Homo sapiens: one gene and its partner. The protein of the gene in region 2 purifies or fractionates together with the protein of the main gene of each other region. This does not show direct contact. Each region holds a gene or a part of one and is shown on either strand. Other genes may lie near its edges.

Evidence for each region. The genes of interacting proteins can lie anywhere in the genome.
Region 1: the proteins of PLCD3 (region 2) and PIP4K2B purify together in Homo sapiens (affinity purification with mass spectrometry; one large-scale study listed by BioGRID and IntAct). This does not show direct contact.

What each region holds. Positions count from the first base shown.
Region 1 is NC_000017.11:38,765,066-38,768,579, forward strand, and holds the end of PIP4K2B (phosphatidylinositol 5-phosphate 4-kinase type-2 beta), read right to left. Parts: 3' UTR 626-3,514; downstream 1-625. UniProt on the Homo sapiens protein: Participates in the biosynthesis of phosphatidylinositol 4,5-bisphosphate. Preferentially utilizes GTP, rather than ATP, for PI(5)P phosphorylation and its activity reflects changes in direct proportion to the physiological GTP concentration.
Region 2 is NC_000017.11:45,111,871-45,115,518, forward strand, and holds part of PLCD3 (1-phosphatidylinositol 4,5-bisphosphate phosphodiesterase delta-3), read right to left. Parts: exon of another isoform or gene 3,639-3,648; intron 3,621-3,638; coding exon 3,474-3,620; intron 3,375-3,473; coding exon 3,224-3,374; intron 2,632-3,223; coding exon of another isoform or gene 2,497-2,631; coding exon 2,380-2,496; intron 1,736-2,379; coding exon 1,569-1,735; intron 1,388-1,568; coding exon 1,252-1,387; intron 1,143-1,251; coding exon 993-1,142; intron 835-992; coding exon 746-834; 3' UTR 1-745. UniProt on the Homo sapiens protein: Hydrolyzes the phosphatidylinositol 4,5-bisphosphate (PIP2) to generate 2 second messenger molecules diacylglycerol (DAG) and inositol 1,4,5-trisphosphate (IP3).

The DNA of each region.
Region 1 (3,514 bases), 6.3 Mb from region 2:
GTGACATGTTCAAAGTTATGTCAGGTGAGTGGCTCCTAGCCAGAGTTCGTTCTACACAGCTGGAGGCGGGGGGGCGGGGGGGGGGTTGTCCATTCTTCCATGTGCATGGTAGTAACAGCTAACAGGCAGATTGGCTCTGGTGCTGTGGTGTTTTGTTTGTTTTTTCCTTAAGAGTCTCATTGTTGCTAGGGCTGGAGTGCTGTGGTGCAATCATGGCTAACTGCAGCCTCAACCTCCCAAGCTCAAGTGATCCTCCTGCCTCAGCCTCCTGAGTAGCTGGGACTACAGACATGTGCCATCACATCCAGCTAATTCTTGTTTTGTAGAGACGGGGTCTCACTATGTTACCCAGACCGGTACTGAACTTCTGGGCTCAAGTGATCCTCCTGCCTTGGCCTCCCCAAGTACTGGGCGTGAGCCACCAAACCCAGCCAGTGGTGCTGTGCTTTTAACCACTGTTTATTAATTGCATCTGAAAGCGGGATGTCATTGACCATATTCTTTCTCCAAACTCAAGCCATACATTGATTTAGCCGAAGCTGCCTCTAAAGCTAGGACCAAAACTTTTTAATTCTGGGAAGAAAAAAAAAAGGTTCATTTCCCAAGGACTCACACATAACAGATGTACACAAAGCTTTTTGAGTTTTATTTTTTTCCTCAGGTTGGAGATTCATCGTAACATGCATGCATTTTCAAACAGTAACAGGGTCTCAAACTTTTTAAAGCAGACGTTAGACAAGCACAGGGGATTGAAAATTCCCATTTAAAAAATGGAAACTGCAGTGGGATATGGAGAAGTCACACACTTGGTGGGGTGGTGGTTTGTCCTGCTTCCCCAAAAGGTGGATATGAACTTAATTCACATTTTTTAATTTCAATGATCTGACCTGATGCTGGGATGTGCCGAGCAGTACTGCCCCCTCCCCCAAGGGTGTTGGCTCCCACCGCCTCTCACAGTGGCTCTGCGCAAGGGCAAGAGGCTCCTGTGGAAACTTCTGCCCTGGGATACTGGCACAAGCTGCCAAGGGACAGCTGAGTCTCCTTTTCCCCATGGGGCACTCTTCATAAGTGGCACATTCTAGAGGAGGGAGAGGGCCACGGTCACTGACCCCTGCAGATGGCTGGTAGATTGGGGAACAGTTGTCTGAATGGGTTTTCCCTTTCAGGACCTCCTGCCCGCATGACTGCCAGGAAGAGATGAGGCTCCTAGACTTGGGGGGCCACAGGTTTAAGGCCAGAGCTCTGAGTGTTGTTTAAACGCACTGTCCCTTCTAGCCCCCAACACCTGAGTAACTCACATGCTGGGGTGCTGCAGTTTTCTCTCCCACCCTGAATTGGTAAAAAGACAACTGGGGGGTAGGACTGGCTACTGCAAAAAGTCCTGGGTCTTTGGTCCACCTCCCCAAGGTATGCCCTGGCAGACCATGAAGACAGGAAAGGCAGGGCAGGAGTGTAGCCTCACGCCCTGAGCGCTACCAGCAGGCCTGTTTGAGGCCAAAAGCACAGGCAAGAGAAAGAGTCAAGTAGGGAGAGGGGATAAAGAGCTGCCTGTGGTGGGAACTTAAGAGACTGCCACTGAGAACAGCCACAGGGGCCACTCGTGGCGCCTGCCACAGACCAGCAACCCCTGAGCTAAAGAAGGAGAGGTGGAGCACTGCTTCAGTCTGCGCCCCTCAGCTGTGGCTTCCCGGCATGCCCTGTGACCCCAAGCCGCAGGGTACAGGAAAGAAGTTTGTGCTGGGGGACTCAAAGACCCAGAGGTTAATTAACAGGAACCAGGGCCAGGGGCCTTCATCTAGAGGTCAGTGGAGTCTCCAGGGCACTCATCACTGTGGCTGGGAGACTACAGTGTCTCGGCTGCGGACTTGTGGAAGAAGAGGGGGAAGGATGGGAGAAGGGGTGACTGGATGCCAGCCAGGAATCCTGGCCTTAGCCCTATCCTGGCCTCGCCTAATCAGCCATGTCGTTATTCTTACACCTTTCTTCTTGGGAGACCCAACATTATTCTGAGATGCCATGAGACTGTTTAGCTTTTCTTCATGGCCCCAGGGAGTGAGGCTGAGGGCAGTCACTTCCCCTCCAATGCCCTCGACTGCCCAGTAAAAGAATGGCGGGACCCAAGGAGGAAAGAGTGGGGGCAGACAACGCTTGGGGGATCAGTCCACTTTCTCTACATTCAAACTGCAGACCAAATAGAATACCATGACAAAAAGAAGAGAAAGGAAACTTGTATAAACCAAGATAAATAGCTTTTAAACATTTGAATGCCAAAAATTGGGGGCCAAACTCAAGGTTTTGAAGATAGCACAGCGAATGACCTTTAAAAAAAAAAATTGAAAATCCACCAAACCACAGCTCAAAATGTTATGACCCAGTCAACAATACTGTCAGAAAAACAAAAAGCATTTGAAACAGAATGCTACCTCTCAAAATGTAAACAATATACAAAACACACAAACATACACACACACACACAAACTCAATGTTAAACAAGTTAGATACCTGGTAGTCGTCTTTAACCAGTAAGAATGTGTTACACTTTCCATACACATTATGGCAACATGATCAGCAGACCAAATGCAGAGAAGCCGGTAGGAACCCGAGGCCACGGAGGCTGCTGGAAGACAGCTTTCCAAGCTTCAGAGATGCTGCGCCTGACGAGGAGCAGATCCAAACTTCCATTCTTCATTATGACGTGGGGAAATCAAGTCCAAACATTATTCCTACATAATCCCTTTCCCAAGTCAAATTTGTTTTCTCCATGAGCCAGTTGGTTTCAAGTTCCCTAAGTCATGTAGTGGTCTTGCGGCAGTTGTTCAGACCTACCTATGGCCCCTTCCTGGGGCCAAGGCAGTGGTTTGACCCCCATCTGCCTCTTCCAGAAGGTTTCCCATCCAATCCAGCAGCCCCAGTGAAGTCCAAGAATGCCGTCTCCATTCTTTCCTGACCTATATGCTGTGAGTCAGGCACAGAGACAGTGCTGGTTCCTGCTTCGGAAGCTGGGCTTGGCCAGGTTTGGAGGGAGCCACAGGAAACCAATCTATTCATTCAAAATGGTTTCACAAGCGATCTTCACATCTTTGGGGTTATCTACAAGTCTGACCATATCTCATCCCAAATCCCCAGTTCCTGGTTGAGGGGGTGAGAAGATGCAGGAATGTACCTCCCCCAATGCAGAACAACAGAGCTGTTTCTCTCCTGGCCAGAGCAGCCTGTGGCTCAGTTCTGAGGGCCTGGGTGGCAGGCTCCGAAGGCAGGTGGAACACCTGCAGGAAGCCACTCCTTCCAAAAAAGCCTGTGGGCTGCAGATCTGCTAAAAGTCTAGAGCGGGGCAACAAGGAAAAACAGCCCCAAGGCTGAGGCCAGGTCAAAACCCACATCAAGCCTCCAAACTGGATTTCCTGGATCACATCCTCATGTAACTAGGAAGCCACCTCACGTTTGGACACCACACTCTAAGATGGGGGCACCTTGCTGGCTGTAACTCTCCAGGCACAGGGAGACAGATCTCCTA
Region 2 (3,648 bases):
CTACATAAAATTTAAACATTAGCCAGGTTTGGTGGCCTGTGCCTGTAGTCCCAGCTACTCAGGAGGCTGAGATGGGAGGATCGCTTGAGCCTGGGAGTTCAAAGCTGCAGTGAGCCATGATTGCAACATTGCACTCCAGCCTGGGCGACGGAGCGAGACCCTGTCTCAAAAAATAAAAACCAAAACCTACTGCCAGTTTCCCCAGGGCTTCATGCCTCAGCGCTCCCTTCTTGCTTTGAGAAGGGAAGGGGAGCTCAGGTTCCGGAGCTGGAGGGAGGAGTCCAGGAAGGCCTGGGGTAAAGGAGGGCTTAGGGGCTAAGCTCGGGGTCGGGGCCAAGTGGAGTGACTGCGCTCCTCTGGGGGAAGGAGGCTGGGATGGCCCACGGGAGGACAGAGGGGAACTGAGGGCCCACAAGTGTCCTGCTCCCCAAGTCTCCTGGCAGCAACAGGCTTGCTCCTCATAAGTCACAATGAGGGGTGGGCTGAGGACAAGAGGAGCTGGGGCCATCTCAGGGCCCCAGGGTTGGAGCTCACTGAAGTCACATGAACACCTTTCTGTTCTTCAGGAGGGGCCCAGGCAGCCCTCAGCACCCAGGTGAGACCAGCGCCTGGTGAATGGGCTGAGTGGGCCAAGTGGGTGGGCTGGGGGGCTGGTACTCCCACCACCTGACTCCAGAGGAGGAGAGGGCTCTGCAGGGGATGTGGACTGGCACTCGCAGAACCCCAAGGCGAGTGAGGTGGGCCCTCAGGAGCGCTGGATGCGGATTTGGATGAAGAGCGTGGCTGGTGACAGTGAGGCCCCGTCCTTGGAAAGCAGGTGTATGTGGCGGTACCCTGTAGGGAGGACAGCCAGGCCTCAGGTCCTCTGTGCACCCTGGGGGTCTGGCCCAGCCCGGGCCTGCTTCAGGGCAGGAAATTCGAGGCACAAAGGTGAACAGGGTCTGCAGGACCTGGACCCACATCCCTCTCCATCCCCACCAGCCTCCACCAACCTTGCTTTAGGCTGCTAAGAGGCAGTGTAAACTGGCCCACAAAGTCATTGGGGGAGGTGGCGTCATAATCTTCCACCACAAACCGGACCAGTGCCAGCTCCGGAGCCCGCAGCTGGAACTGCAGGGTCTGCCCCCAGCGGGGGTTGAAGCCTAGGGCACAGGGATGGCAGTCAGAGCCCAGGGGCCCCAGGACCCACCCTGCACCACCCTTCGCTCTCTGCAGTCTCCCCCAACCCCACTTCCGCCAGTGGCTGCCCACCATTGTTGAGCACGTAGTCAGTCTCCTGCCGGGCACAGTCTGCGGGCACCCCATGGATCTCAATGCGCACCAGGGGGTCCACAATGGAGTGTGGCTTCTCGGCATTCAGCTTGGGCAGCTGCTGTGCAGTCAGCACCTGTGGGTGAGGGAGGGAGTGGCTGGGGCCCACGCCCACCTTGGCCATCCCCTCATGGGCCTCAAGCTCACACCACCCTCACTTCCAAATGTCCCCAGCCTCCCTTGCCTTCCTCCACCTCACAAAGAGCCTTTCTAGAACCAGTCTGACCCCACACTGGGGCCCGTTCCAGCCTGCTGACCTGGATGCTGAGAGTGGTTCTGGGAGGTCCTGGGTACTCGGGGTCAAAGGTCGAGTCAGGTTGCCGCAGGCAGGCAGGTTTTAGGACGTAGCCACACTGCCCATTGACTAGGAAGCGCCCGGCATTGAGGTCCATCTCGTAGCCTGGCGTCTGGAAGTTCAAGGCCACTGTGGACACAGCAGGGTCAGAGCAGGGGCTCTTAGCGGCCCTGTTCTCACTACTCAGTTTCAGGGGACTGCATTCCTCTCTACAAAGGGCCTGGGGTCCCACTGTCTGCTTAGTGCTGCTCTGCTCCCACCATGACTTTAGGGGAGGGGGTCATGGACCCAGCCCCCACTGTCACCTGTACTTCTGCCCTGGGATCCCTCAAGACTGGGGTGGGAGGTACTAAAAAAGCCCCCACCCTCAGGGCCAGGCTTGGGTCAGAGCCAGGGGTCTGAGGAAGCCTGGGGTTTCCATCCTTACCCCAAGGAGACGATACAGCCCTCCTTTGGTGGGGCTCAGCGTCCCCCAGAGCCCACCCTTGTCAGTGTTGACTTAGTGGGACTGCCAGGTGTGTGGGGGTTGTGTGTGTCCGGGGGACATGGGAGTGGAGATTTTAATTTCTACCATGATAAAAATGCGAGACCTGTACACTGTCAAGAACAAACGAGCCTGATTTGATTTTCCCACCTACATTGCTGGCAACTTTAAAAATAATCAACAAAATGCGTGTTTCCACCGTCTGGAAGGCTGTGTGGGCCCCTCACTGCTGAGGCCTCCCCCACACTGTGGCACCCCGCCTGCTCTCATTCCTGTGGCCCCCACTTACCCAGCTGACAGCCCGAGTTCCACATCTCCTGGGGACTGTAGTTGGCTGAGTTCATCCGCAGCCCCAGCGGGTACACGCGGGTCAGCTGGCGGGCATTGTGCCTGACAAAGCTGTTCCCTGGGGCAGAGTTGGGGTGAGACCGTGACAGACTCCGGGGGTCCCTCACCCAAAGCCCCGGCCTGTAACCTCCAGGGAACAGAGCCCAAGCCCGTCCCCAGGTCACCCTGCCCCCGCTCCTCACTCTCTTCTGACCTAGAGTGAGAGGGGAGCTCACTGAGGAGGCTGCAGGGACCCCCTCCAGCCACACAGCCTGGCCCTGCATCCCCAGCCCCCAATTCCCAGCTCCTGACAAAGTTCCAACCAAGTACACTGAATGCCCACGGCCCTCCAGCTCCACTGTGGTTCCTGGAATTCTTCTCCAGGCCAAGGCCCCAGGCCTTCAACAACCTGTTCCTCCTGTCTGGAAAGCGCTCTCCCCTCTTCACCTGGCTGCTTCCTAGTCCTCCAGGTGATGTGTCCTCTCAGCATCACCTGCCCCAGGAATTCCTCCCCAGTGTTGCAGCAGCTGCTGGGCTCCCCCAGCCCCCAGCCCAGCCTGACCCATCACCCTCTATGGCCGGCCCCACCACAGGGCTCTGAAGGCAGACAGCAGGCCGCCCTCAGCGTGCCACTCCCCTCCATCCACCCTGGCATGTGCGGGGCCCTCATTCCCTCAGCCCAGCCCCTCTTTGGGGTCCTCTTGACCTCTTTACTGTCCCCCAAAGCCCCCTCAACTCCTTTCCAGACTCCCTTCAGGAGGTCTCTCACCCTCTCGCCCCCAGACACCCAGTGCCCCAGCTCCTACCTGCCTCCCGAATGAGTTTCTTGGCTTTGCGCTCGCTGAGGGAGCTGACCTGGCAGGGTTGTGGGGCGTTGGGGGCAGGGTGCAGGGTCCGCAGGCGGGTGGCGTGGCAGTACACAGCCAGGGCCGACAGCTCCGGGGAGATCTGCTTGGCCTAGGAGACCAGGCTCAGCGGGGTTCAGCTGGCCCCCGCTTCCCACATCCGTCCTCCCACCTTCCCCCCCTTCCCCACCCCACCCATCCCAGCTCTCACCAGCCGCCTCTGCGCTGCAGCCTCCACCTCCTCTTCTTCCTCCTCGTCATCCTCCTCCTCCTCCTCCCGATCCGACAGAGCCCGGCCATCCTCGCTCCGAGCAGCGGGCAACTTCTTTCCCTTCACCAGGACCCGGCCCTTCAGCTGCTGTGGGGGCCAACGTGGAGGATGAAGG